Homo sapiens: one gene and its partners. The protein of the gene in region 1 purifies or fractionates together with the protein of each later gene. This does not show direct contact. Each region holds a gene or a part of one and is shown in the gene's direction. Other genes may lie near its edges.

Region 1 (3,500 bases):
GTCTTGCTCTGTTGCCCAGGCTGGAGTGCACTGGCATGATCTCGGCTCACTGCAACCTCCGCCTCCCAGGTTCCAGCTATTCTCCTGCCTCTGCCTCCCAAGTAGCTGGGACTACAGGTGCGTGCCACCATGCTTGGCTAATTTTTCTATTTTTTTTAAGTAGTGACGGGGTTTTACCATGTTGCCCAGGCTGGTCTCAAACTCCTGACCTCAGGTGATCCATCCATCTCAGCCTCCCAAAGTGCTGGGATTACAGGTGTGAGCCACCAAGCCCGGCCAAAACCCAAATCTAATCACTACTCTTGGCCTTATTTCAATTGACCAGGTGTGATGGCTTACGCCTGTAATCCAAGCACTTTGGGAGGCTGAAGTGGAAGGATCACTTGAGCCCAGGAGTTCAAGACTAGCCTAGTCAACATAGCAAGACCCCCATCTCCATTAAAAATTTAAAAATTAACCAGATGTGGTGGCGCATGCCTGTAGTCCCTGCTACTCGAGAGGCTGAAGCAGAAGGATCACTTGAGCCCAGGAGGTGGAGACTGCAGTGAACCGTGTTTGCACCATTGCACTCCAGTTTCAGCAACAGAGCGAAAACACGTCTCAAAGAAAAAAAAAAAAAACTTTTAAGTGGCTTCTCACTGCTCTAAAACTCTTTAGCATCCCTTACAGGGCCCGGATGCCGTGGCCTCTGCTTCTCTCTGTTTTGCCTTCTCCACTCCAGCCACAATGACCACTTCCAGTTCCTCATCTATACTGGGCACCCTCCTACCCTAGGGCCTGTTGCTTCTGCCTGAAACCCTCCTCTCCTCCGCCCCATTTAAGTTAACCCCTCCTTCTTCAGATCTGAAGGCAATCATCACTTCCTCAGAGAAGCCTTTTTAAGCTATCTATTAGTAGTGGCTATTTCTTTTGTAGGACTAATCACAGTTATAACTTTACTGTTCTATGTGACATTAATTGATCAATATCAGCCTCCCTCATTAGACTGGAAGTTCTGCAGGAGAAATCATGTCTACTTTTTGCTTCCCTCACATCCTCAGCTCACAGAAAAGTACTTATAGTTTAAAAGGAACTTGGTATTTACTAAATGAGCAAACAGTAATGAGAAAAGATGTTTAAAGCAGTAATATAGAATTTGTGGTGAGGGGACCGTCAGCTTGGAGATATGTTCACAGCATTAGGACTGGGTTGTAGGGATAAGAGAAACTCAGGAGTTGCAGTCAGTGGGCTCAGCTGCCCAATTTTAGACGTCAGGGCAGCATGAAGATCTGGAGTGAGGGCAGCGTGCTACTGACTTTGCGTGACCTTGAACAAATGACTTCATTCCTCTGAGCCTCAATTTCCTCATCTGTACGTGGAGATAATATTAGTACTGGTGGTTGTGGGGATCAAGTTAAATGAGATAAAGCACGTAAAAGCATGTATTCTAGGCCAGGTTTGGTGTCTTATGCCTATAATCCCATTACTTTGGGAGGCTGAGATGGGCAGATTACCTGAGGTCAGGAGTTCAAGACCACCCTGACCAACATGGCAAAACCCTGTCTCTACTAAAAATACAAAATTAGCCGGGCATGGTGGCACACACCTATAATCCCAGCAACTTCAGAGGCTGAGGCAGGAGAATTGCTTGAACTCAGGAGGTGGAGGTTGCAGTGAGCCGAGATCGCACCATTGCACTACAGCCTGGGCAACAAGAGCGAAACTGTCTCAAAAAAAAAAAAAAAAAAAAAAAAAAAAACACTTATTCTAGCCCTATAGTAAACATTTGACTTTGAGCAGCTCACTGACCTTAATTTAGATTAATTCCTAAATTTTCTCCTGTAAGGTATCTGCTATGGCCCAGGTAAAATTAATGTTCAAGGGCATAGAGCTAGTTAATTTTAGGGTCAGGGCTTAAGAACCTCCAGGTTCCTAGTCTGTTGTTCTTTTGTGGACACCACACTGCTACCTGAGAGATGAGTTTCAAACACCGGACTGGGAGTCAAGTGACTTGGATTCTGTTCCCAGCTCTTCCACTCATCACCCATGGGACAATTCCCCCAATACCTGTCATTTCCTGCCTTACGGATATAATGTATTTGACAGTGCTTCGAAAGACGACACCATATAAATAACTGACACTATTTATATCTGGAAAATGAGATTACTGGAAAATTCCTCATTTTCTAACAAGGAAACGAGAAATATGAGATAGCTGCTGCTTTATTTTGTTTGGCATCTTCTCCCTTATGACACAACATGATGTAAATGTTTTCATTTTCCTGAGAGGCTATACAGTTTGCAAGTGGTTGCCGGAAACACTCAGTAATGCTTTACTGATAGGTGTTCCCAGCATGTTAATGTTCTCCTTGCTGAAATGTCGAAGACCCAAACTGTTTCGTGGAGATAATCAAAGTATATCTTTGTCTTTTTTTTTTTTTTTTTTTTTTTTACTGATTCTATAGCCATTTTATAAGCCTTGGTGATTGCTCCTTAGACCTTTCATGGTTGGAAAAACAGTGTTATTAGGGTAAACCAGAGTTGTGCTAAACAGCAGCTGCCATCATGGTACACACAGAGACAAAGGTTATGAAGCCTTACCCTTGAATACAAACTTCCTCCTTTGTTGTGTTCAAACCAGCATGATTACAAAGTTTAAGTATTGTCTTCATATTATGAGTCTATTTCAATGGAAAAATTAACAGAATGGTTTTCTTTTTCAGCTAAACAGAAAGAATTTACTGACAATGTGAGCAGTGCTTTTGAACAAGGTACTTTCTTTTCTTCACTTTCTTAAATATGGAAAGAAATTTCAAGCACTGAAGCATAGCCATTCATTCAATAACTAGCTATTATATACCTTCCTATGATAGCTATATAGGGAGATATGAAATACTTATGAGTCTACATTTCTGTCTTTAAAAAAATGCCTTTAAGAATCTACATTTCTGGCCAGGCACGGTGGCTAATGCCTGTAATCCCAACACTGGGAGGCTAAGGCGGGCGGATCACGAAGTCAGGAGATTGAGACCATCCTGGCTAACACGGTGAAACTCTGTCTCTACTAAAAATACAAAATTAACTGGGTGTGGTGGCACAACGCCTGTAGTCCCAGCTACTTGGGAGGCTGAGGCAGGAGAATCGCTTGAACCAGGGAGGCGGAAGTTGGAGTGAGCTGAGATCGTGCCACTGCACGCCAGCCTGAGTGACAGAGCGAGACTCCATCTCAAAAAAAAAAAAAAAATCAACATTTCTGCCTTTCTAGAGAAACAAACTATATCAAAAAAGTGATCTGGGAACAGTGACTCACGCCTGTTATCCCAACACTTTGGGAGGGTGAGGTGGGCAGATCACTTGAGGTTAGGGGTTTGAGACCAGCCTGGCCAACATGGTGAAACTCCAGCTCTACTAAAAATACAAAAATTAACTGAGTGTGGTGGCATGTGCCTACAGTCCCAGCTACTCAAGAGGCTGAGGCCAGGAGAATTGCTTGAACCAGGGAGGCTGAGGTTGCAGTGAGC
Region 2 (4,488 bases), on another chromosome or scaffold:
TTAGGTCATGCACTATTTAGAAATAAGTTTTGGTTTTGTAAATTTAAGTTAGTTACAACCAGGATAATTTTGCTTAAACTCTTTAAAATATAGTTGTGTGCTTTATTTCTTGGTTGTATGTGTATCATTTCTTGTTCTGTGTGTATCATTTGTTATTTGAACTGTTTACCCCATCTAACAAAGTGATGTTTGTTTCTTGCAAAATCTCTCTAGATGAGTACTGGCAGAATCACCCAGAACTACATGACATTCCAATATACTATGCATCATCTTTGGCCAAGAAGTGTATGGCAGTGTACCAGACATATGTAAATGCCATGAATGACAAAATCCGCAAACAGATCAACATCAATAATCCCTTTGTTTTCAAACACATTAGTAACCTCAAGGTGAGTGCTTGTGGAAGAAAGACAAGGATGGATAAAACCAAATCAGTCATTAGTAGTAGGAGGTACGAGGCCGTGAGTGATGGCTCACAGCTGTAATTTAGCACTTTGGGAGTCTAAGGCAGGAGGATCACTAGAACTCAGGAGTTTGAGACCGGCCTGGGCAAGATAGTGAGACCCTGTCTCTATCAAAATAAAATAAAAATCGTAGGCAGTGCTTGTCAGTGACTCTGGCTGAATTCCTCTTGCTGGAGTCTTACCGCTTCTCAACAGGTGTCGTTTTTCTGCAGAAAATCAAAACTTCAGCAGCTGACATTCTTTTTCTGCTTCAACAGATTTTGCCACTTGCCCCAAGTAGCCATGTGTTCTCAGTATTTATAATACTCATCTCTTTTGCCGTAGGCATAAAAAGTTCTGAGGAGAAAAATATTTTGTATTATGTATTTAAGTTTCTCTTCTCACTCAAACCAAATCATCTTTTTGATTAGTGCTGCAAATTCTATATATGAAAATTTTTATATACTTTTCTGGAAGCATTCAATAAAATCTGATTTTATTTAATTTAAAAAATACTGTTTAACTCGATGCTTGAATCATAATAAAATAATTGATATCCGAAATAATTTAAAAGTGGACTTCCAGTTGTAAATAGGCTTTGTTCATAAAGTATTTATTTTAAGTTAACTGCTTAAGGATTGTAGACAAGTTCTCCCTAGAACAATGTTAAACCTTTTGATTTCCAGGCCAGCTCAAAACATGCATGGAGCATGCAAAGCTATTGTGAGTCTTTGGGAATATTTTTTCAGAGTTGTGTCTTGGGTAGATCAAGACCCATTTGACTCTTCCTTTTACTTTTCTGCCTGCCTGCTAGGCGCTGAAGATGGTCCTGATGGTTCTGATGGCCCTCTAGCTACCAACAGAAGGTTTTGAAGATCGGGGTGAACTTACCGCTTTTTATTACTTGGTTTTTCTACCATTCCTAGCCTAAACTGTTTAGGAATTTGGCAACTGAACTTAAAATGTTTACAGATCTTGTGAAGGCTCTTTCAGTGATGTGATTAATCTCTTAGCCTTTTGTTATTCTTTAAAAAGAAAGAATGCTTTGTCAGCTGCTGGTAGCTAACATACTTTTCCCATTCTGTTTTCTCTCTTAGAGCATGGATCATTTTGATGACATTGGTCCCAGTGTTGTAATGGCCTCCCCAGGCATGATGCAAAGTGGCTTATCCAGAGAATTATTTGAAAGCTGGTGTACTGATAAGAGGAATGGTGTCATTATAGCGGGATACTGTGTAGAAGGGACACTTGCCAAGGTCAGTTACAGTCATAGGCTGTTGTGTTATTCCTATTCAGAATCACGGAGGTGGCACGGTCCTCACAGGTTTTTGCACTGAAGTAGTTCTTCAAATAATACAAGTTTTGATTTTTAAAAATGAGGACGGGAATAGGTAGCTAGAGATGTGCGTAGGATGTAGAATTATGCAGACACTGAATGGCATAATGAGGTCCCAGGTGATTGATATACACATTAAAGTTTGAGAAATGCTCATCTGGTTGCAAGTAGAGAAGAATGGACAGGAACCTGTTTGAGACAAACACGTGAATACTCTCCGTCCTCTCATGAAGAAGAGGTTGACTAATACATATGATCTTAAAAAGCTGTAGAATGTGTTTGGGTTGACCACTTTCTACTATTATGAAACATTGATTTTCAGCTCTTAGGGATGTAGAAATTGTAGAAAATATATGCAGAACTTGGGAGGCAGTTTCTGAGCATCCAGGCATCACATTCTCATCCTCTATTTTATTTTTAAAAATATGATATGATTCTTTGATAATCTTTATTACTTTACCTTATTCTATAAAGTTCTTTAGTGACAATGTTGTATTTAAAATAGATTTCCAGGCTGGGTGCAGTGGCTCACACCTGTAATCCCAGTACTTTGGGAGGCCAAGGCGGGCGGATCACCTGAGGTCAGGAGTTCGAGACCAGCCTGGCCAACATGGCGAAACCCCGTCTCTACTAAAAATACAAAAAATTAGCTGGGCGTGGTGGCGTATGCCTGTAATCCCAGCTACTCGGGAGGCTGAGGCAGGGAGAATTGCTTGAAACTGGAGGCGGAGGTTGCAGTCAGCCGAGATTGGCGCCACTGCACTCCAATCTGGGTGACGGAGCAAGACTCCATCTCCAAAAAAAAAAGAAAAAAAAAATTTCCAGGCCTGGCACAGTGCCTCACATCTGTAATCCTAGCACTTCAGGAGGCCACAGCAGGTGGATCACTTGAGCTCAGGAGTTGGGGACCAGCTTGGGCAACATGGAGAAATCCCATCTCTACAAAAAATACAAAAATTAGCCAGGTGTGGTGGCACGTGCCTGTAGTCCTAGCTAGTTGGGGGACTGAGGCAGGAGGCTTGCTTGAACCCAGGAGGTCGAGGCTGCAGTGAGCTGAGATCGCACACTGCATTTCAGCCTGGGTGACAAAGTGAGACCCTATTTGAAAAAACAAAGATTTTCAGAATAGAAATATATCCACATATCTAGGAAATGACTTTGGAGAGCACAAGAATAGTTGGGAATACAGGTTTGTCTTTCTAAGCATAAGAGTTATGATTCTCACTGCCAGCACTCCAGATAGATGAGTTTTAGTTAATTTGTTTACTTTTCTCATTAAATGTTTGCTTGATTGAGAACATGAGTATTTGATATTTACTGAGTCAGTTATATTAGAATGATTTTGTGCGTAAGGTCCTAAATTTAACATGAATTTATGACTGCATGAAAAAAATGAAAATGTACCTTTACGATTATAACTGGGTAGTTTGTTTTGTTATTTTTCTTTATTTTCCACAGCACATCATGTCTGAACCTGAAGAAATCACTACTATGTCTGGACAGAAGTTACCACTGAAAATGTCTGTTGATTACATTTCTTTCTCAGCTCACACGGATTACCAGCAAACCAGTGAATTTATTCGTGCTTTGAAACCGCCTCATGTGGTTAGTCTATGAATTTCATTTATTGTATTAAAGGGAAAAAAAGTGCATACCCAGGAAACTGTGCAGCAGGCAGTTCACAAAGCAGGCATCATCACCTACTAATGCGACACCCCCTGAGCAGAGCCTTTCACATGCACTCGGATTTGGCCTTTACAACTCCCCTTTGATTTCAGCAAGCTGCCCCCTTTCTCCAGAACTGACTGACTCAGACCTACCAACCCCAATCCTAATGTTTTTCTGTTATTTTCTGCTGCCTCTCCAATAATTTAAGAGCCAGGCTTGGAGTATGACTGCTCATTTGGAATGCCAGCTCCATCTCTTACTTACTATGTAACCCTTGGCAAGTTACTTAACCTCTCTGTACCTCATTTGTAAATAGGAATAATAGCTCATAAGGTTATTGTAAGGATGAAGTGAAAGAACATATCTAAAGCACTTAATATGGTGCCTGGCACATAGTAAATGCTTAATATATATATTATATATATATATATATATTTTTTTTTTTTTTGAGGCGGAGTCTTGCTCTGTCACCCAGGCTGACTGCAACTCCGCCTCCCGGGTTCAAGCAGCTCTCTGCTTCAGCCTCCTGAGTAACTGGGATTACAGGTGCCCACCACCACACCCGGCTAATTTTTGTATTTTTAGTAGAGATGGGGTTTCACCGTCTTGGCCGGGCTGGTCTTGAACTCCTGACTTCATGATACACCCGCCTCGGCCTCCCAAAGTGCTGGGATTACAGGCGCGAGCCACTGCACCCGGCCGACTTACTTATATTTTTAAGTATCGTGTAACTTATTAAAAATAAGTTAGATATTTTGATGGAATTGGAAAGGAGGGGTAAGCTGAAAAAAGTGTGTATTTTTAATTAGAAGAACACTAATGAAGCATGTGTCCATAGAAAATAGATGACGTGCCCTTTCCAAATGTATTGGAAAGCAGGAGAAATGGCCTTTTGTTAGTTTTGTTTGTTTGCTTGTTGTTTGGGGTGTTTTTTGGTTTGTTTGTTTGTTTGTTTGTTTGGATGAAGTCTTGCTCTGTTGCCTAGGCTGGAGTGCAGTGGCGCCAATCTCAGCTCACTGCAGCTTCTGCCTCCTGGGTTAA
Region 3 (4,488 bases), on another chromosome or scaffold:
CTTCCAAAAGCCAGAGGAATAATGAAGTCACTGAAACAGCCTTGAGTTGAGGTGTCCTTCATATACCTCCACCTACATATGGATATGGTGACATGGATTCAATATTCGAACCTTGTTTATTAAATAATTGCAGTTTCTTCTTTACTAAGGCCTCTCTTAGTCATTTTAATAACTCTCCAAGTTCACCACTGAAGATTAAAGACAAACTGCTAAGATTTAGTCTTCTTTTAATGTGTGGCAAGTTAACTAATGGGAGGAAGTTTTTATTCCCGCCCATAAATGAGCATACTGTCTCTTAAAATAGCTTGTACACACTGCCTTTTTAAAAGAATCATTTTACACTGAAGACGACAATCTCTGGTTATCACTGTTTTTAAATCCTGGAGACATCTCTGCAGTCCATCTGAACTCGGCCAAGCATTGCTCAAATTGCTCTACCGTCTGTAGGTTCTGCCTTAAGAGATTCCTGACAAGAAGCGGTTTCAGCCTCTTCTGGAGGAGACCTCTATAACAATCAGCTGAGGCTGCTGAATGAGGGGGAAGGGCACATTTGTAGCAGCTTCTCTTACTCATGCTTTGTAGACTTCCTTTCCTGTCACAGCTCTTGGTATTTTTCCACTCCAACCCAGGGGAAGCCATTCTCCTGTAAATATTACTCCCTCTTTAAACTCCAACCTAAAGTGATGGTGAGGCTTCAGTTTATATGGCCTTCCCTTTGACTTTTTTTCTCAAATATATTTAATTGTACAATTATATCCTTACTGTGTAGCTGACTGGTAGCTCAGTATCACCAGCAGTCTGAAATAGAATCTCATAGCCTATTAAATAAAACTGTGGCTCTCAGCAGATTTCTAGCATGTGGTTTTGGCTAATCTCCTGGAATATATTGGAGAAAAGTACCAAGAGACATTTCAGTTGCTCTGTTCCTAAACAGTACCAAAATAACTTGAGTGTTTTGAACACTTTCAAATAAACAGCATGGATCAAATTTCAAAGGAGAGACTCATGGAAAGGTAACTTTCACAATCCCTTTGTTCCTTGCCTTTGCTCTGATGTCACAGGCTGCCGGTGTTACCATAGCATGAGTTAAATTTCCTGTTTTCTCTCGAATGAATGTATTTGACTTAGTGTCTGGGCTTGTTTTATTTCCTTGGGCTTAGTAAGGACACTCAACAGTACTCTCAGGTAACCTTTTTTTTTTTTTTTTTTTTTTTTTTGAGACGGAGTCTCGCTCTGTCACCAGGCTGGAGTACAGTGATGCGATCTTGGCTCACTGCAACCTCCGCCTCCCGGGTTCAAGCAATTCTCCTGCCTCAACCTCCAAAGTAGCTGGGATTACAGGTGCCTGCCACTGCGCCTGACTAATTTTTGTATTTTTAGTAGAGATGGGGTTTCACCATGTTGGCCAGGCTGATCTCGAACTCCTGACCTCAGGTGATCTGCCCATCTAGGCCTCCCAAAGTGCTGGGATTACAAGAGTGAGCCACTGCTCCCAGCCACCTTTTATTTTTCTTTGAGAGAGGGTCTCACTCTGTCACTCAGGCTGGAGTGCAGTGGCATAGTCACAGCCTACTGCAATCTCAACCTCCTGGACTCAAGCGATCCTCCCACTTTAGCCTCTTGAGTAGCTGGGACTACAGACACATGCCAGTATGCCTGGATAATTTTTTTTTCTTTTGTAGAGCCGGGGTCTCACTATGTTGCCCAGGCTGGTCCCGAACTCCTGGGCTTAAGAGGGCCTAAGAGAAATGAAAAGGCATTGCTCTGGCAAGGCTGAGGAGCAGTATATCTGCACTCGATTTTGGTTAGCTCTGAGAACCATGGTAATTTGTGAATTCTAGCCACCTGTTACCATGTGAGAAGGAGTGGGCCTTGTACTCTTTTCTCCAGTTTTTCAAGAAAAGCCAGAAATTTGCACTTTAATGGGAAATCTGTGTTGTTTTAAAATACTGTATAGTGACACCATTGAAAATGGTGGCATAGGACCTCCAAAAAAGGAATGAGAACTGTATTAGTCTGTTCTTGTACTTTTGTAAAGACATACCTGAGACTGGGTAATTTAAAAAGAAAAGAGGTTTAATTGACTCATGGTTCTGCAGGACATACAGGCTTCTGCTTCTGGGGAGGCCCCAGGAGAATTATAATCATGGCGGAAGGTGAAGGGGAAGCAAGCACGTCTTATATGGCAGGAGCAGGAGGAAGACAGCGAAGAGGGAGGTGATACACACTTTTAACCGGATCTCATGAGAACTCTATCATGAGACAGCACTAGGGAGATGGTGCTGAACCATTAGGAACAACCCCCATGATCCAATCACCTCCCACCAGGCCAGACCTCCAACATTGGGGATTAAAATTCAACATGAGATTTGGATGGGAACACAGAGCCAAACCATATCAAGAACATTGGCAAAAATGATCAGAATCAGCTTTTTCAGAACTCTGGAAATTAACCAAAGGCTTGCAGCAATCTGGGGAGCATTTATTCAAGAAAAACATTGAATCTCAGTAAGAACATTAAGAATTGTGGCATTTTAACTTGCCCTGTTCCCATGCTGCCTTTTCCCAGATCAGCTGTAGCCTGGACAACCGATAGCCTGCAATCACAGTGAAACCAGGAGGCTGGCAGTTACTGCAAAAGGGAGAACAGAGGTGATACTCCTCATAGACCATCCCCAGAAAATTGTCATTTGACTGGTCTGATGGTTTCCTAAAATTGTCCATTCACAAGGCTGTCTTTATTTGACCAACACAAGTCAGTAAGGAAAGAATAGTCTTCAGTAAATGGTGCTGGGATAACTGGATATCCACATTAAAAAAAAAAAAATCCCTATCTCACACCATATATGAAAATTAACTCAAAATGGACCAAAGTCCTAAATGTAATGCTGAAACCATATAACTGTTAGAGAACATAGGACTGGATTTTTGCGACCTTGGGTTAGGTATTGGTTTCTTAGCTATCCCATCAAAATCATAAGTGACAAAAATTAAACTTGACTTAGCTAAATTAAATACATCTATGTTTCAAAGAGCACTATTAAGAAAGTGGGGGCCAGGCACGGTGGCTCACGCCTGTAATCCCAGCACTTTGGGAGGCTGAGGCAGGCGGATCACCTGAGGTCAGGAGTTCGAGACCAGCCTCAACATGGAGAAACCCCATCTCTACTAAAAATACAAAAAAAAATTAGCCGGGCATGGTGGTGCATGCCTGTAATCCCAACTACTCGGGAGGCTGAGGCAGGAGAATTGCTTGAACCTGGGAGGCGGAGGTTGTGATGAGCCGAGATTGTGCCATTGCAGTCCAGCCTGGGCAACGAGAGCAAAACTCCATCTCAAAAAAAAAAAAAAAAAAAAGAAACTGGAAAGACTTCATCAATGTAATGAAAAACCAAAAAAAAAAAAGAGAAAAGGTAAAAAGACTGCCCATAGAATTGGCAAAATATTTGCAAATCATATACCTGATAAGATTCTAGTGTTCGGCAAACATAAATAAAATAACAACCGTAAAAAGACAACCAAATTTAAAAATTAGCAATAGATTTAATTAGCCACTTCTCCAAAGAAGTTATACAAATGGGCAGTAAACACATTAGTCATTACGGAAATGCAAATTTAAAACTACAATGGCCGGGTGTGGCGGCTTACACCTGTAATCCCAGTACTTTGGGAGGCTGAGGCGGGCAGATCATTTCAGGTCAGGAGTTCAAACCAGCCTGATCAACATGGTGAAACTCCGTCTCTACTAAAAAATACAAAAATTAGCCGGATGTGGTGGCACACTCCTGTAGTCCCAGCTACTCAGGAGGCTGAGGTGGGAGAATCACTTGAACCTAGGAGGTGGAGGTTGCAGTGAGCAGAGATTGTACCACTGCACTCCAGCCTGGGCAACAGAGTGAGACTCTGTCTCAGGGGAAAAAAAAAACCACAAAACTACAATGAAATACCATTTCACACCCACTAGGATGGCTATGATAAAAAAGATAGACAATACCAAGTATTGGTGAGGGTGTAAAAAGATTCGACCTGTCATACACTACTGGTGTGAATGTAAAACTGCAGCCACTTTGGAAAACAGTTTGGCAGATCCTCAAAGTTAAATGTATAGTTACTGTGTCCTCAAGCAAATCCATTCCTATGTATATACCTAACAGAATTCAAAACATATATTCACACAAACTTTTTTTTTTAGACAGTCTCGCTCTTTCACCCAGGCTGGAGTGCAGTGGTGCAATCTCGGCCTCAGCCTTCTGAGTACCTGGGACCACAGGCAAGCACCACCATGCCCAGCTAACTTTTGTATTTTTAATTTTGCCATGTTGGCCAGGTTGGTCTCGAACTCCTAGCCTCAAGTGATCCACCTGCCTCAGCCTCCCAAAGTGCTAGGATTATAGGCATGAGCCATTGCACCTGGCCACACACAAACTTATATACAAATATTCATAGCATTATTCATAATGGTCAACATGTGGAAACTCAAATGTACAT
Region 4 (4,488 bases), on another chromosome or scaffold:
AGGCAGTGACTATATATACATGTATAAATATATAAATGCAACATATTAGCACATTAAAGATGGAATTATTTTATTTATCTAAAAACATTATTCTTAATTTTTTAGCAACTTGTAGAGACAGTTTCATGTGGAGGAAATCTTTTGATGAATATTGGGCCCACACTAGATGGCACCATTTCTGTAGTTTTTGAGGAGCGACTGAGGCAAATGGGGTCCTGGCTAAAAGTCAATGGAGAAGCTATTTATGAAACCCATACCTGGCGATCCCAGAATGACACTGTCACCCCAGATGTGTGGTAAGTCATTCTTGTTACCAAGTACTCTTTTATAAAGGAAGAGATTTAAAATTTATCAGACATATAAAGAAGAGTAGGATAAAAAGAGAAATTGGATGAATTCCTACATATACAAAGCACTTTCCAAACTTTGCTTACTCTAATATAAAGAGAAGGGGAAGAATTTGCATGTTTTGAAACATTTATTGTTTATCAGATTGAGCTTACATCATTTCTAGGTATCTCCCAGTAGTGGACAAATTTTGGCTGAAAGTACTCAGCTCTTAGAAAAATTGTAAGCTGTTCAGACCAATGAAAAATGCTGAATGGTTAGTCTAAAACGGAGATTACTGTTTAACCAGTTCGGTAAATTCTGACTTTTGCAGATGTTGCATCCCATGAAATTAGCAAACAAGAGGTACCCAATGGCAGAGAAAATGTTAGATTAAAAATGAATCAAAATAGGGAGGGTTCAGGGAAGATGCTTCTCTCTGAGCTTGAGGAGGTTCTGTGTGTCAATGAGTACCCGAATCAGACTCCACAAATATGACAGTTTCTGATATGGTTTCTTAACATATATAAAATAAGATGAGTATTGGTGAAGTTCTAAAAATTCGCTTTCAGTTGCCACCTGAGTACTGTCTGATCAAATAGGAACCGAAAGATTAGACTAATTGTTCTTCAATCTACTTGACTTATGACTTAAAACATTAACAACCCATTGAATAAAATGGAGTAAGGCAATCTGGACAGAGCAAATAATTGTGGAATTTTAAAATGTTGATCTGGGAGAAGCCATAATGAGAACTCAATACCAATCTCTCATGTGACAGAGAATAGTAGAAATCTGGTTTTGGAATTTGCTTCTTACTTTTGAATACTTACATTTGAATATGAGGGTATCTGATCTGGGACTTCACAATCATTAACCATTATTCTATTGTGTTTATTTCAAGAAATAAACATAAAAGCTAAATATTTAATGTGGCTTATAAAACTGTGAGTCTGGCTCCTACCAACTTCCCTGCCACTGAGTGGTCCTGCTCTCCCTCCTCACCATAGGAGCCTTCTTCCCCCAGGGTTCATCATGCCCACCTTCTTGCAGTCACCTACAGACTCCCAGGTCAACCCTTAAAATCCTTTGAGAGAGCCCTGGCTTGCTGTCCCTGTCCCCAGAACTACTCTTCACATAATTCTTAGAGATTTAAATTTTTATTCACAGTTCTAATTACCTGCACCTCCTGTCTTCTAGGGGTCTTGTCCGCTTGACCTTTGTTACCTGTTCCTTTGCATTATCAATATACAAGGTCATATTGGTAATGCAAAGTCGAACTTCTTACTCAACACTTCCACTTGGATGCATAGCATCTTAGACCTGTACGTCCACAACTGAAGCCCTGAGTTTTAAATTTTTGCTGTAGACTAGCTCCACCCACGGTCTTCTCCATCTCAGTTAATGGCAGCTTTATCCTTTAGGTGGTTGTCAGGCCAAAAACCTTGGTGTCCTTAACTTCCCTTTCTTTTATAAACATACTTTAGACTTTGCATTACCAATAACTGAACCCCTTCCACGGCTCCAGTTTGAAGGATTCTGCCATCTACCTACCACTTCTTATATTTTGGCTCACTCTGCATGGCACTTCGGCTTCCAAAGGGATCTATAATCCAGTGATCATACTATCTTTTAATCCTATCATCTTTTCTCTGTCTTTTTCCTTATCCGGGACAGATTCTGTGGCCCATCACTGTAACTAATCTATTGCATACACCCAACTCCTGAACCCTTGCTCCCTCTGCCATACTCACTTGACGGAACATCAACTTTAAATACAGATCTACTTATTCCATGCCTGCTTCTGGACAGCTAACTGTTAACTATGGAAACACACACACACACACACGCACCCAGACACATACAATGTAAAATTATCTCACTTTTGGCTTTAAGGTCAACCCTTGTGTCCTGATCCCATTGCAAATCATCCACCCAAGGATTGTTATAGCAATTCTCCCCTTTAACTCAATTTCACTTGCATTTCTAGTGATCTTCCCATTTCTCTCCTTTCCTTTGTAGTAAAACGTCTTGAAAGGATTGTTTTCACTTGCTATCTCTAATTCCTTGCTACAGTTTTTCTCTTGAACCCCCTCTGGTCGAGCTTCCACCCCCACACTCCAGAATTGCTCTTCTCAAGGCCCACAATAACATCTGCCTTGCCAGTTCCAGTGATGAGTCCCCAGTGCTCATTTTCTTAACTTACTGGCAGTGTCTGCCTCAGTTTATCACTGTCTCTCCTGGTGTTTGTCGTACCTTTTGGCTCTTCCTTCTTAGTTAGTTCCTTTGCTGATTTCATCTCATTTTTCCAACCTCTAAATCTTGAAGTGCCCTGAGGTTTAGTCTTTGGACTTCCATTCTTCTCTATCTTTTTTTGAGTGCACTGGTGCGATCTTGGCTCACGGCAACCTCCACCTCCCAGGTTCAAGTGATTCTCCTGCCTCAGCCTCCTGAGTAGCTGGGATTACAGGTGTCCGCCACCAAGCCTGGCTAATTTTTTTGTATTTTTAGTAGAGATGGGGTTTCACCATGTTTGGCCAGGCTGGTCTCGAACTCCTGACCTCAGGTGACCCGCTTGCCTTGGCCTCCCAAAGTGCTGGGATTACAGGCGTGAGCCACTGCGTTTATCTTAATGTCCCAGGTGATCTTATCCATTTTCATGGCTTTAAATGCCATATTGATGATCTCCACATTTCTATTTCCAGTGCAGACCTCTTTCCGAACTCCAGCCTCAATAACTTCCTACTCAGCATTTCCACTTAGATGCATAGCATCTTAGACCTGTACATCCAAAACTGAAATCCTGAGTTTTAAAATTTTGCTATCAACTAGCTCCACCCATGGTCTTTCCCATCTCAGTTAACGGCAGCTTCATCCTTTAGGTGGTTGTCAAGCCCAAAACCTTGAAGCCCTTAGTTTCCCCTTCTTTTATAGTCACAGCCAACCCATTAGCAGATATCATCCTCTGCATCTTTGAAATATATTCAGAATCTGTCCACTTCTTATCCTCTCTGTGGCAACCCTCATCCTTTTAGTTTCCATTGTCTCGCCCCTGCCTGGATTATTTCAGTAGCTTCTTAATAGGTCTCTATTTCTACCCTTTAACCTATTCACCACAAAGCAATCAGAGTATACTTTTAAATAATAATGCCACTCCCATGGTCACATTTCTCCAATGGCTTCCAGTCTCAGAGAGAAGGCCAGGTCCCATAGATGCTTACAAGGGCCTATAAAATCTGGCTCCTATCGCCTCTCTGATCTTATCTGCCATCACCCTCCCCCACTTCCTCTCCTTCAGGCACTCTGCCTTGCTAGTGCATCAACAGGCAGAGCACACTCTTGCACTGGGGCTCCTGCACTTGTCATTCTGTCTGGAAGGTTTTCCCCAGACGCTCCCGTGGTGCTCTTATGGCGCTCCCATGGTTCTCTTCCATGCCACCTCTAAGAAGTCTTCCCTGACTATTCTGTTTAAAATAACACTCCCAGGCCCCTCCTTTCCTACCTAGCATGCCCTGTCCTTCTAACCTGGCTTGTTTTCTCCATAGCATTTAATCAACACCTGACATATTTGTTGATTCTAATTTCTTCCACTAGAATGTAAGCCCCATGAGGACAAGGACTTTGTTCAATGTTGTATATAGCTCTAAAACAGTGTCTAGCATTTTAAGATTTCAATAAGTATTTCTTGAGTAATTGAATGAATAAATGAATGAAATCCACTTTTTTTTTTGTCCACAGCATACTTCCCTTACCTTCTTCTTTGCTCCCATTCATCCTTTAAGTCTCAGATTAAATGTTATGTTCCTGGAGAGGCTTCTTTCTGATGTTCTAATCTAAAGAGATCCTTTTGTTATAATCTCTCAATTTCCTTTTCTTTCATGGTGCTTATCAGAACTCACACTTTCATATTATTTGTGTGATTGTTTAGTGTCTGCTTTCCCCACTCTAGTCTAAGCTCCATAAGAACAAGGACTATGTGTGTTTTGTTTTTTATTGTAACTCTAACACTGAGCACAGTACTAGGCACAGAATTGACACATGCATATCTTGTCTTGTTGAATGAATGAATGAATATAAAAATTTGAATAATACATGAAAAGCCATGAAGCTCTTGCATCCTGTCCCCTTAGATCATCTCCCTCCCCTTTTCAGCTCCATGAG
Region 5 (4,488 bases), on another chromosome or scaffold:
CCGTCTGCTGCGCTGACTGGGTGAGAGCATGAACCCTTCTTCCTCAGTTCCATGTGGTCTGAGGCTTGGGCAAGGAGTGGCCGGGGATGCAGAGAGCTCGTGTCGCTTCTCCCTCATCCACTGAAAGTGGCCTCAAAACCTGAATTGGTTTCACTTAGCCAGCGTAAGCGGGAACGGTATTTGGTCATTGTTTCTGAAAGAGGTTTCTTTCTTTTTTATTTTTAAATTACAGGGAGAAAAGGCCAGTATCTGAAACAGAGCTGTGGTATATTATGTAGAAAAATAGCAATCTGAACCGCTAACACACACAAGCCTTCATATTTGTACAGAGTCTGGTGATATGTTCCGTCTCTTCCAGGCATGCTTTTAACAGAACCTCTGGAGTTTGAGATCATAGCTCGCTCTCAGAAAAGACTCTTACTCTTTTTACATGATTTATAGTGGAATCATTGATTTAGACAAGTGGGCAGAATCGGAATACAAGGCAAAAAAGAGCCTCATCAGTATCTCAGTGACAGGCAGACATAACGTTCCCTCCCGTTCAGAAATCACTGGGCTTCCGGTCACAAGGCTGTGCCAGGGCAGCACCCCACGTGGCTGGCTCCATTCCTCCAGGCAGGTCCATTTGCTGGGTGCCTGGGTCTCGCCTCTGCACCTGCCTCTCCCACGGTGCGGCGTGCCCTGCCACACTGCCGACTCTGCTGAGGCCTCCAGGCTCCAGGATAGCCAGCACCCATCCCTTGACCCAGTGGTGCCCCTTTAGGCTGTCCCCTCAAAGTCTCAGGGCCTGGAAGGACCCCTACAGAGTGAGGAGCCAGGAAATATTTGTGAATTGTTGGCAGTGCAATTTTTACATCCCAGAGGAAGAACACAAATCTTTTAAAAAGAAAACCTCACTGGTCAGCTTCGGAAACCATGACTTTGATACTGGTGACTGAAGCACGAGCCAGGCACTCCCCTTCCTCATGTGAGTCATTCCGCTGGGTTGCAGTGAGGGCAGGTCTCTCTTTACAGAATTGTCCCAGCTCATCATGAGCAAACGGTGAGAGATGACACGTCACCATTTCACTGCAGCCCTGGTGCATTAATGCATTTAGGTCGTGATCACTAAGGAGAGAGGCGTCGCTTGCCTCTGGGTGGAAGCATGTTCCACTACCTACAAAGTAATGTCACCAAACAAATCAGACAAGAATCTAGATCTGAGTGCCCTGTTACAGAAATGCCAGGAGTCCGGGATGTTGTCAGTCAAACCCAGAGAAGGAAAGTGCCAGGACCCACCAGCAGTAACCAACAAGCCTCGCTGGGATCTTGATTCAAACAAACTTTAAACGAACAAATAGGGACTTTTTTTTTTTCTTAAGGTGGAGCCTCCCCCTGTCGCCGGCTCACTGCAGCCTGTGCCTTCCGGGCTCAAGCGGTCCTCCCACCTCAGCCTCTCCAGTAGCTGGGACCGCAGGTGTGCGCCACCAACGCCCAGCTAATTTTTTGTATTTTTTTTTTAGAGACAGGGTTTTACCATGTTGCCCAGGCTGGTCTCAAACTCCTGGGCTTAAACGATCTGCCCACCTCGGCCTCCCAAAGTGCTGGGATTCCAGGCATGAGCCACCATGCCCAGTGGAGAGCCTTCATCTTTCAGAGGCAAAGCCTGGTGGGTTTTGTGTAGAAATGACGTGCTGAGATTTGTTGTGGGACAGTTCTGAAAGTGGGTGGAGACTTTGGCAAAACAGGATTCACCTTGAGCTGATAATTATTGATCCAAGAGGTAGAATGTGTGGGATTTGTTACATTTTTATCTCTATTTTATTTGCATGTTAGAAATTTTCCATAGCAAAAACTTTAGAGATAGGAACAAAAAAATTTATGGTTCCTTTTAGCCTCCCCAAAATGGCATAGGTGTTCCAGGGTTTGCGGGCAGTGTCTGGGATGGTGTTGGAAACCACTTCACATGTGTCTGTGCACGCATCCTTGCCTTGAAAGACCCTGCTCAGATGCTGCCAGTACTCGCTGGAGTGAGAACACGGGAATGTTTTTGCCAAACAGCCTGGACCGTATCTGATTAATCTGCACGTACTTGCTTGCTGTCCTGACTTAAGTGCCGGCCGCTGACAGCCGCGTCTGTTACCAGCGCTTTCATCCATCAGGGTGTCATTTAATTAGGGGCCCACAGCCTTGTCCCTGCTCCGTGATGTGCAGGTTCAGCACAAATCCGCTTGTTCTGTGACTATCTGTGGTAGGAGAGGCATCGTGCTGTTGGTGGAGTTCTCTCTCCTAGCTCCACATAGACGCTCTGTGTGATGAGGGCCTAACTGATGACCTAGAGGGGGCAGGTGGGCTGGTCTCGCAGGTGGCCGCAGCCTGGAGTGGGGACTGCTGGGTCCTGGGCTTCCCGGGAGTCCAGTGCTCACCACACTGAAGGTCATGCTCCTGCTTTTCAGACTGGGCCAGTGCCATTCGCGTCGCAGCTCTGGACTGCATGGAAGAGAAGAACCAGGCCGTGTGCCATGACTACGACATCCACTTCTACCCCACCTTCCGGGTGAGTATCACGCGGCTGCTTGTCCGTTGAAATTCACCTTCTACCCCACCTTCCAGGTGAGCATCACGCGGCTGCTTGTCTGTTGAAATTCGCCACATCATAGTGCCTGTGTTTTCGGCTTCTCTGGCTCTCTCCTTGGAACTTCGTAGGAATTGTAGGAGCTGATGTTTGGTGGGGGCAGCTCTTGTTCCACCCTGTTGTGCTGTGGAAGTGTCTGTGGGACTGTCCACGCTCACACAGACCCGGTCACATGGAGGGGATGCGTGAAAAGACCCCCTGCAGCCTGCACGGCCAGGGGGCGCAAGGAGACCAGGACTGCGAGGGCTGGCACCCCAGCCTGAAGCCACGCGTGTGGTCCGTGTACCATGGGGCTCTCACACATGCACACTCATGCACACACACACGCACACACAGGCACAGGGCCTCTGCCTTCCCCAGCCAAAGTCAGCCCTGCAGACAAGGCTGTGCCCATTGCTCCCACTAGGGGGCGGAGGTACCTGTGACCCTGTTGCAGGCCCGTGCATAGCATGTGTGTACCTGCGGGTGCCACTGCCTCCTGCGTGCCTTGACATGGACATCTCCAGAAACGTGGGCGCCTTGGGCCCACTTCCTGGGAAGCTTTGTCAATTTGAGTAAAACTCCGTCCTTGTCAGCCCTGGTGCCTTGCTGTGTGGTGTGGTGTCATGTCATGGTGGCTTCGCTTGTATTTTGGGGGCTGTTGTTTTCACTGTGCTGGCAGCACCTGTGGTCCTGCCCTAACAGGTGCCACGCTGGGCGGCACCGGTGTCAGCCCTGCCCCAGGGCCTCTCGGGGCCTGTGTCGCACACTTGCTTGCCTGCCTCTGCGTGTGATTACGTCAGCATGGCTTCCTGTTGTATTTTGATTTTGCTTCAGACACAGTTCACACTGTGCTGTATGTAAACTTTCGGGCCCTCTTTCTGTTACTTAATGGGACATTGCCCAGATCCACTACGATGCTCATTGGATGGGATTGTCCAGTGACGTCACTCTGAGAACCAGAGCCCCCCGTTGCCAGGTGTGTGGGCTCTTCCAGGCTTTGGTGGCTTTGAACGGCGCTGCTGTGCGCCTTCCCGGGCAAGGGGAGAGCTGAGGCTGGGAGAGAAGCCACTGGGCCGCGAACCGGGTCTGTGCACAACAGACCTGCAGGGCCAGCAGTGTCAGGCAGTTTTGTGCTCGCCCAGGGACCAGTGCAGCAGGAAGCACTGGCGGCTTCGTTTGCATTTCCCTGGCGGCTGCAGTGCCAGCACATCTGGCTTTGTGGGCCGTGGGTGTCATGGGTGAAGTGTCTTCCTGTCATCTGCACGTTTCCCTCTTAGCTGGCCAGTGCTTTTCTTACCGACCTCATCTCCGCCATCATGTAACCTTGTCTCGTCGCTGTCTCTAACGTACCCTTTGATGAAGAAAGTTTTTAATGTTAACATAAGAACCTAATCATCCACTCAGAGATACTGCGTGGTGTCTCCTCCTCCTGCACATCCTCCGTGTTGTCACAGCTAACGCTACAGCTAACCATTAAGACATAGGCTCACTACCAAGTCCCAGAGAGCGGTGTCTTTTATGATTCCAGCCCAGTTGAACTGTCTTGCTTCTAGCCCTGTTGGGTCAGAAAATGTAAATGATGGGAATGCTGATTGGAGCTAACCTTAGCCCCCTCGTAAATCTGACAGGAAACATTAATATGCACAAAGACAAGGAGAAGCGTGTGGTTTGTCATTAATTTATGAAAACTTTCCGAAGGAAATTGAGTAAAGCTCCCTCTAAGGTGACGGGCGTTTTGTTGCTTAAACACATGCAGATGCCCATGGAAGGCTGCCTCTTACTTGTTCTGTGTTTTTCCTCTTAGTATTTTAAAGCATTTACAAAGGAGTTTACAACTGGAGAAAATTTTAAAGGTAAGGACATAAGCATTGTATTTTAGTCCCTGAGATTCC
Region 6 (4,488 bases), on another chromosome or scaffold:
CATACCATAAATGGTATTTGAATAAAACAGTTAATTCTACATTATTCCCTCATAAAATATACTGTGCTGATAATTGTCAAATGTCTATATTATTTCAAAAGCCAATTTTACTCTACAGTATATGACATTTAATATGATCAACTTTTGATATACAGCAGAGTTCAAACTTGACAGCAAAGTTGAAAACTAGTTAAAAGCTTTAAAAAGATTTAAAATTTAGAGTGGGAAAAATATACTAATGAAAAAGTAATTCCTTAATGAAACAGAAATAGAGAATCTTTATCTTGATGCATGTCTAGCTTGTCTTAATTTTATCTGATGAAATCTTGTTTGAAACTAGCTCTATTATCATACTTGGTTTTTTTTTGCAATCACAAAAATGAAATTTGTGTAACATTATATACATAAATATTGCCTGTAAAAAATGAAGATCAAGAAAGCATGGGACAGTGTACTTGATGACAGTAAACACCTTAAATGTGAAGGTAGTGTTGAAGTGCCTCATAAAGATGAGTGGATATACAAGACTTACATAATATTGTTAGGATTTATCTCTTTTAGAAATTTGTCAGTGACTTATCAAATTGGTGAAAGTTTTACTGCCCTGGCTCATAAGTACCTTAATTTAATGGAATGTAGTTATGACAAAATTTGGAATTTATTTTTGATTATAGAAGACATACCACACAATACATGTGCTGAGAGTTTTTTATTTATTTTATTTTTATTTTTATTTTTGAGACAGGATCTCGTTCTGTCACCCAGCTTGAAGTGCAGTGACGTGATCTCGGCTCACTGCAGCCTCTGCCTCCTGGGCTCAAGTGATTCGCCCATCTCAGCCTCCCAAGTAGCTGGTACTATAGGTGTGAGCCATCATGCATGGTTGATTTTTATATTTTTTTGGAGAGACGGGGTTTTGCCATGTTGCCCGGGTTGGTTTTGAACTGCTGGACTCAAGCAGTCCACCTGCCTTGGCCTCCCAAAGTGCTAGGATTACAGATGTGAGCGTCTGTGCCTGGCCTGAGTATCATATATTTTACACATTAATCATACTGTTTTCCCTTCCCTGTAGTTGCTACCTTAGGGATTCTTTAAGGAGGTGTTTGTTCTCCATTTCAGAATTTTCATTGAACAAATTTTATGCAACTTTTGGATTTTTAAAAAATTTGTTAAACATCAGGCACACTGCATTGGATTAATCACCTATCTGTCTGTCAATCATTTTAATAAGTACTCATGGACCACCACTCCCCCTCTCTCAAAACAAGCTAGGAACTTTAACCTACGTATAGTTTTCCTCTATTCTATCCGTCTATTTCCACCTTCTTGTCATCTAGGTCATCATTTTTGAGTCCTGTGTTCATTCTCTTCCTTATATAGTAGTCCCTCCTTATCCACGGTTTCAGTTACCCATGGTCAACTGTGGTCCAAAAATAGGTGAGTACAGTATAGTACTATAAGATATTTATAAGTACTAAGATACTTTGAGAGAAACCACACTCATAACTGTAATTACAGTATAGTTATAATTGTTCTATTTTATTATTAGTTATTGTTAATTGCTTACTGTGCCTAATTTATAAATTAAACTTTAGCATAAGTATGTATGTTAAAGGAAAAGTGTAAATAGAGTTTAGTACTGTTCGTGGTTTTAGGCATTTACTGAAGGTCTCTCGGTGGATAAAAGGAGACTACTGTGTATAGTTTAGTTGGACATATAAATCTAAACATCTTTTAGTTGTTTGTATAGAATTGTGAATATAATCTTTTTGAACTTGATTTTTCACCTGTTATAAATAAGATTTATCCACATTTTTGCATGTTGCTATAGTCATTATTTAAATTGCTATATAATATTTCATTGAGTAAAATATTCATTAACTCTACTTTGGTGGATATTTGGATATTTATCCACTCTCCCTTGTTGGGCAGTTATTTTCCATTTTTTGTTTTGTTTTGTTTGTAATTATAAGCAAAGATCCTATGGACAGTCTGCATGTTTCCTACTGTGCATGTGCCACAGTTCCTATTATATACCTAGAGGTAGCATTGCTGCCTCACAGGGTAGGTGAATGTTCAACTTAAGAGATGATGCAGAACTTTCAATATGGTTGCACCAATTTATATTCATATTAGCAATATATGAAATAAAAGATCCTTTGGTTATCCATCCTCTCCAACACTTGATATTCTCTTTTTAAGTTTTACAAATCATAAGGGTGTAAAATGTTGCCTTATTGTGGTCTTGATGCGCATTTTCCTGGTTATCACTGATGTAGAACACTTCTTTTTATGTTTGTCGGCCTTTTTACGTGGCTTCTTCAGTGAAATTCCTATTTATGTCTCTTGCCTATTTTTGTTTTTCTTACTAGTTTATAAGAGTTCTTTATATTGCTTATGTTAATCCTCTGTGTACATTGTGAATGTCTTCTTTCAGTTCCTAACTTTTTCGCTTTCTTTTATGGAGTTGTGTGGGAGGGACAGTTTTAAATGCCTCTACCTTCTTTGGCAAATATTTGGAATAATTTACATCGTTATCATCAACAGGCTTGTATTTAATATCTATTGTACATTTGGTATAGAAAGGGTAAAGTTATATTAATAGTTTATGGCCTGGGGATTTGTAAACTATCCAAATGAACAGCCATAGGAAGTTGTATAAAATATTGTATTGCTTCACACATGCTAGGCACCCAAATGCTAGGTTGATTTAGTTAATGAGTAAATTCAGAAGCAAAGAAATAGCAAAAATTATACATACACTTCATCAGTTGCTTATTTTCCAATTCCATACCTCTCTGTTGCAAACTACTTATTATTAGTCATTAATAATATTTTATTCTTTTGTTTAAAGGGCAGTATATTCCGTAAGATTATGTGAGTCAGTTATTTAGGTATTTTCATAGCTTGCCATTAAAATGCTGGAGTTGATCAGATTTAATACTGGATATAAAGCAAAATATTAATCTTCTGAACAGTTTACTAGTTCAGAAGTTTACAAACTCGGAATCCTAAATACAGTTTTTGTCATTGCTGTGCATCTTTTGATAAAAAAAATTCTTAAGTCAAATTTGTCCATTGTTTATCATACAGTAAGTCCTCACTTAATGTCATTGACGGGTTCTTGGAAACTGACTTTAAGCAAAATAACTTATAATGAAACCAGTTTCTTTTTTCTCATCAGTGTTCTAAGGAAATGATATTATAAACAATGAAACATTAGCCAGAAGTGGTGATGCACACCTGTAGTCCCAGCTACTTTGGAGGTGGAGGTGAGAGAATGACTTGAGCCCAAGAGTTAAGGCTGCAGTGAGCTGGAATCGTGTCATTGCACTCTAACCTGGGCAGCATAGTGAGACCCTGTCTCAAAAAAAGAAAGAAAAGAAATGATATTGAGCGAAACAGCATTATTAAAGGACCTGAAGCACATTGTTTTTCTTAAAGTCTCAGTTCCAAGAACCTATCAGCAGTGTTAAGTGAGGACTTACTGTAATTGCTTTTCATGCCCTTTTAAATAAATTATTCCCTATCCTGGGTTTAAAAGATAGCTACCCAAGTTTGCTCCTAAGAATCTTGCAGTTTTATTTTTTAGATTTAAGTCAGTTTATCTGGATTTGTTGTTTTTTAATAGACTTCATATTTTAAAGCAGTTTTAGGTCCACAGCAAAATCGAGAGGAAGGTCTAGAGATTTCTCAAATAACTGCGTCCCTACATATGTACATATGCATTATCGACATCCTCCACAAGAGTACATTTGTTGCAGTTGATGAACCTATATTGACACATCATCATCATCCAGAGCCCAGAGTGCACACATCTTGGTGTTGTGCATTCTATGGGTTTGTACAAATGTATAATGACATGTATCCAGCATTATAGTATACAGAATAGTGTCCCTGCACTAAGCTTATTCTCTGTGTTCTACCTATTCATCCTTCCCTCTCCTCCATCCCCTGGCAACCACTGATCTTTTTACAGTTTCCATAGTTGTGCGTTTGGGAAAATCTCATGCGGTTGGAATCATACAGTGTGTAGCCATTTTACATGGGTTTCTTTCACTTAGAAATAAGCATTTAATTTTCCTCCATGTCTTTTCATAGCTTGATAGCTTATTTCTTTTTAGTACTGAATAATATCCCATTGTCTGTATGTACCTTAGTTTATTCATTCACCTACTGAAGGACATCTTGGTTGCTTCTGTTTTGGCAGTTATGAATAAAATGCTATAGACATCCTATGCAAGTTTTTGTGTGGATGCAACTTTTCAACTCCTTTGGTTAAATACCAGGGTGTCCAATTGTATGGTAAGAATATATTTAGATTTGTAAGAAACTCCCAAACTGCCCTCCAGAGTGCCCGAACTATTTTGTATTCCTACCAACAATAAGAGTTTTTGTTGTTCCACACCATCTCCAGTATTTGGTGTTGTCAGTTTTCTGGATTTTGGTCATTCTAATAAGTGTATCATGGTATCTCATTTCTGTTTA
Region 7 (3,335 bases), on another chromosome or scaffold:
CCTTAGAATGGAAAGAGGAGGTTAGTACTGTTCTGTACCAAGTACTGTAACTTGGCACATTGACATGTAAGTTTAGGCATGTACTTACAGAAGATCTTATAAAAAAGACAGGCACAGTGGCTCATGCCTGTAATCCCAGCACTCTGGGAGGCTGAGGTGGGAGGAACACTTGAGCCCAGGAGTTCGGGGTTACAGTGAGTTATGATTGTGCCACCATACTGTAGCTTGGGTGACAGCGAAACCCTGTCTCTAAAAATACATGGAGAGGCCAGGCGCGGTGGCTCACGCCTGTAATCCTAGCACTTTGGGAGGCCAACGCGGGCAGATCACTTAAGGTCAGGATATCAAGACTAGCCTGGCCAACATAGTGAAACCCCATCGCTACTAAAAATACAAAAATTAGCCGGGTGTGGTGACGAGCAACTGGGGAGGTTGAGGTGGGAGTATCCCTTGAACCCACGAGACGGAGGTTGCACTGCACTTCAGTTTGGGTGACAGAGCAAGACTCTCTCTCTCAAAAAAAAAGAAATACATATAGATATAGATAGATGTATAGATAGATAGATATATAGAGAGAGACCAATCCTGTCTCTAAAAAAATATATATATGTTTATCTTAGATCTAATAAAGGCACATTGTATATGACTTACAGCTTTTATATTTACTAATATAGCTTCTATATGTCACGTACAGTGTGCCTTTATTAGATCTAACAGAAATGTTTTCTCCCCAAGTAATAGTAAATAGTTTGAAGCTATTTTAAGTTTCTAAAGTCATACATCTGACTTTAATAAGCACAAAAACTAAGTCTTCGTTTCTCACGTGTGGACTTCCCTGTAGGCCATCTCCCCGGTTGTTGTGCACAGCCACGAAACAAAAGAACAGTGGCCAGAACCTGGAAGAGGACATGGGTCAGAGTGAACAGAAGGCAGATCCTCCTGCTACAGAGAAGACCCTCCTGGAAGAGAAGGTCAAGTTGGAGGAACAGCTGAAGGAGACTGTGGTGAGGACTGTGAGGCTCCTGTGGGGGCGGGCTCGGCTGAACTGTTTCTCTCCTGGGCCACATAAAGGTTCCAGGTTTCATTGGTGACAGACTAAAGCCAGAGTTAAGCCGTTGTCCATGGCCTGCAGTGGGCCCAGGTGGCAAGTTACTGCCAAAGCAAAGACTAAAACCCAAATCCTGTGCAACTCTGGTTCTGGCAAGAGACTAATCTTTACACGCTGTTATTTGTCATTGAATGAAAACTTAAAATCATCTTTACAAATGAGGAATGCTCAGTATGGTTGTTTAGGCTGGGACTTAGGAGAGGAAGCAGAAAATTGCAAGTACAAGAGTTGGGAGCAGGAGTGTGGTTTTATGTGATGCTCTCATAGGCAGGTAGGAGTTTTATGAACTAGTAACATGGATTATTACTCCATGTGAAAACACATAGGTGGCACAAATCAAGTTCTTTAAGGATTTGAGAAAGACATCAAACCCTGAGTGCTGGCACCATTCCAAACCCGTTACATATGTTAATCCTGGCTGCCAGGTGCGGAGCCAGGGCTCGAACTAGAACCCCCTGGACTTGGAGCTCTTGCTCCTTGCCACTGTACAGTGATTACCTGAAGACTGAAAATGGATGCAGTATAGAGGCCCCCACAGAGCAACTTAGTAAATGTTAAAAAGAGAAAAGCTAGCTGGGCGCAGTGGCTTACCCCTCTGATAGCACTTTGGAAGGTTGAGGCAAGAGGATTGCTTGAGCCCAGGTGTTCAAGACCAGCCTGGGCAACATAGTGAGACTCCATCTCTAAAAAAAATTAAAAATTAGCTGGGCGTGGTGGTGCACTCCTGTAGTCCCAGCAACCCAGGAGGCTGAGGTGGGAGAATTGCTTGAGCCCAGGAGGTTGAGGCTGCAGTGAGCCGAGATTACACCACTTCAACCTGGATGATAGAGCAAGACCCTGTCTCAGAAAAAAAAAAAAAAGGCTCAGATGAGTGAGCTTACCGGAAGGTGGTGAGACATGAGGAATATACTAGAACTCAGATGATGATTACACAAGGAATGTTTGAACTGAGCCACCTCTGGGTAACACAGCATAGCAAAAGATCATGAGTGCAGCTTTTATTAAGCTTTCATTAAGCTGCCCTCCTTAGTCACATCTCAAAGGCAGTGATATTACTTCTGTTTTGACTTGTAGTTAGTTACACAGCCGTTTTCCAATCAAGCTCGCTTTCCTATGACTTTGTTCCATATTAATATAAATCTCCCGGCCAGGCATGGTGGCCCACACCTGTAATCCCAGCACTTTGGGAGGCCGAGGCGGTCGGATCACAAGGTCAGGAGATGGAGACCATCCTGGCTAACACGGTGAAACCCTATCTCTACTAAAAATACAAAAAAATTAGCTGGGCGTGGTGGCAGGCGCCTGTAGTCCCAGCTACTCGGGAGGCTGAGGCAGGAGAATGGCGTGAACCCAGGAGGCGGAGCTTGCAGTGAGCTGAGATCATGCCACTGCACTCCAGCCTGAGCGACATACAGAGCAAGATTCCGTCTCAAAAAAAAAGATATATATATATATATATATATATAAATATCCCTTTTTTTCTCTTTTAGGAAAAATATAAACGAGCTTTGGCAGACACTGAGAACTTACGGCAGAGGAGCCAGAAATTGGTGGAGGAGGCAAAATTATACGGTACTTTCAACATAACATGGTGTTGATTCCGGAAAGAAGATAATGGGGTGGGGAAGGGGAAGGCCATGCATACGGAAGTGTCAGAGAGCAAGGCTGTGGGGTGGGGGGTCCAGCTGTTGCATCCCCTGCATTTTTTTTTATGATGGCTCAACAGCAAAGGTGTCTGGAGGAGCAGAAATCAAGTAGCTGAGACTAGCATGAAGAATTGTAAATAGGTGTGTCCTCCCCCACGCAGAGACCTTGGTGGGAACCTGCAGCAGGTCAGCCTCTGATGCCCATCCCCTTAGCCCTCCGGAAGTAACACTGGCATCACTTCAGAACTCCCAGCATGCTATATGCATTGCCACCTTTGGATGTTTTTGTTACTGTCCTTCCCATTTTACAGTTGAGATCATTGAGGTTTAGTCACCTGCCACACATCACAAAGCTGGTACGTAACCCCAGGCTCCCAGCTCCACAGGCTGGTTGTTTGAGTGCTGGCTCTGGATCTCTGCGTGACTGACAGTGGGTATTAGAGATGTGGAACCTAAGGCTCGAGGGAGGGTAAATGGCCTTGCCTGGGTCAGACGGTGAGAGGCCACATGGAAACTAAGAGCTAGAGTCTCTGTCGCATTCACAGAGACTGAGGCGCTCATTGAAACACTTTTTTTCCTGG

The links.
Region 2: the proteins of HSCB (region 1) and CPSF3 purify together in Homo sapiens (affinity purification with mass spectrometry; one large-scale study listed by BioGRID and IntAct). This does not show direct contact.
Region 3: the proteins of HSCB (region 1) and ARG2 purify together in Homo sapiens (affinity purification with mass spectrometry; one large-scale study listed by BioGRID and IntAct). This does not show direct contact.
Region 4: the proteins of HSCB (region 1) and FUCA2 purify together in Homo sapiens (affinity purification with mass spectrometry; one large-scale study listed by BioGRID and IntAct). This does not show direct contact.
Region 5: the proteins of HSCB (region 1) and QSOX2 purify together in Homo sapiens (affinity purification with mass spectrometry; one large-scale study listed by BioGRID and IntAct). This does not show direct contact.
Region 6: the proteins of HSCB (region 1) and PKN2 purify together in Homo sapiens (affinity purification with mass spectrometry; one large-scale study listed by BioGRID and IntAct). This does not show direct contact.
Region 7: the proteins of HSCB (region 1) and GRPEL1 purify together in Homo sapiens (affinity purification with mass spectrometry; 2 studies listed by BioGRID and IntAct, with this or other methods). This does not show direct contact.

The regions. Positions count from the first base shown.
Region 1 is NC_000022.11:28,748,539-28,752,038, forward strand, and holds part of HSCB (iron-sulfur cluster co-chaperone protein HscB isoform 1 precursor), read left to right. Parts: intron 1-2,702; coding exon 2,703-2,750; intron 2,751-3,500.
Region 2 is NC_000002.12:9,440,278-9,444,765, forward strand, and holds part of CPSF3 (cleavage and polyadenylation specificity factor subunit 3), read left to right. Parts: intron 1-213; coding exon 214-389; intron 390-1,540; coding exon 1,541-1,699; intron 1,700-3,237; coding exon 3,238-3,384; intron 3,385-4,488. UniProt on the Homo sapiens protein: Component of the cleavage and polyadenylation specificity factor (CPSF) complex that plays a key role in pre-mRNA 3'-end formation, recognizing the AAUAAA signal sequence and interacting with poly(A) polymerase and other factors to bring about cleavage and poly(A) addition.
Region 3 is NC_000014.9:67,622,344-67,626,831, forward strand, and holds part of ARG2 (arginase-2, mitochondrial precursor), read left to right. Parts: intron 1-3,523; exon of another isoform or gene 3,524-4,488. UniProt on the Homo sapiens protein: May play a role in the regulation of extra-urea cycle arginine metabolism and also in down-regulation of nitric oxide synthesis. Extrahepatic arginase functions to regulate L-arginine bioavailability to nitric oxid synthase (NOS).
Region 4 is NC_000006.12:143,497,740-143,502,227, reverse strand, and holds part of FUCA2 (plasma alpha-L-fucosidase precursor), read left to right. Parts: intron 1-105; coding exon 106-296; intron 297-4,488. UniProt on the Homo sapiens protein: Alpha-L-fucosidase is responsible for hydrolyzing the alpha-1,6-linked fucose joined to the reducing-end N-acetylglucosamine of the carbohydrate moieties of glycoproteins.
Region 5 is NC_000009.12:136,224,822-136,229,309, reverse strand, and holds part of QSOX2 (sulfhydryl oxidase 2 precursor), read left to right. Parts: intron 1-2,435; coding exon 2,436-2,536; intron 2,537-4,400; coding exon 4,401-4,449; intron 4,450-4,488. UniProt on the Homo sapiens protein: Catalyzes the oxidation of sulfhydryl groups in peptide and protein thiols to disulfides with the reduction of oxygen to hydrogen peroxide. May contribute to disulfide bond formation in a variety of secreted proteins.
Region 6 is NC_000001.11:88,690,344-88,694,831, forward strand, and holds part of PKN2 (serine/threonine-protein kinase N2), read left to right. Parts: intron 1-1,380; exon of another isoform or gene 1,381-1,437; intron 1,438-4,488. UniProt on the Homo sapiens protein: PKC-related serine/threonine-protein kinase and Rho/Rac effector protein that participates in specific signal transduction responses in the cell.
Region 7 is NC_000004.12:7,061,730-7,065,064, reverse strand, and holds part of GRPEL1 (grpE protein homolog 1, mitochondrial precursor), read left to right. Parts: exon of another isoform or gene 1-182; intron 183-841; coding exon 842-1,004; intron 1,005-2,598; coding exon 2,599-2,680; intron 2,681-3,335. UniProt on the Homo sapiens protein: Essential component of the PAM complex, a complex required for the translocation of transit peptide-containing proteins from the inner membrane into the mitochondrial matrix in an ATP-dependent manner.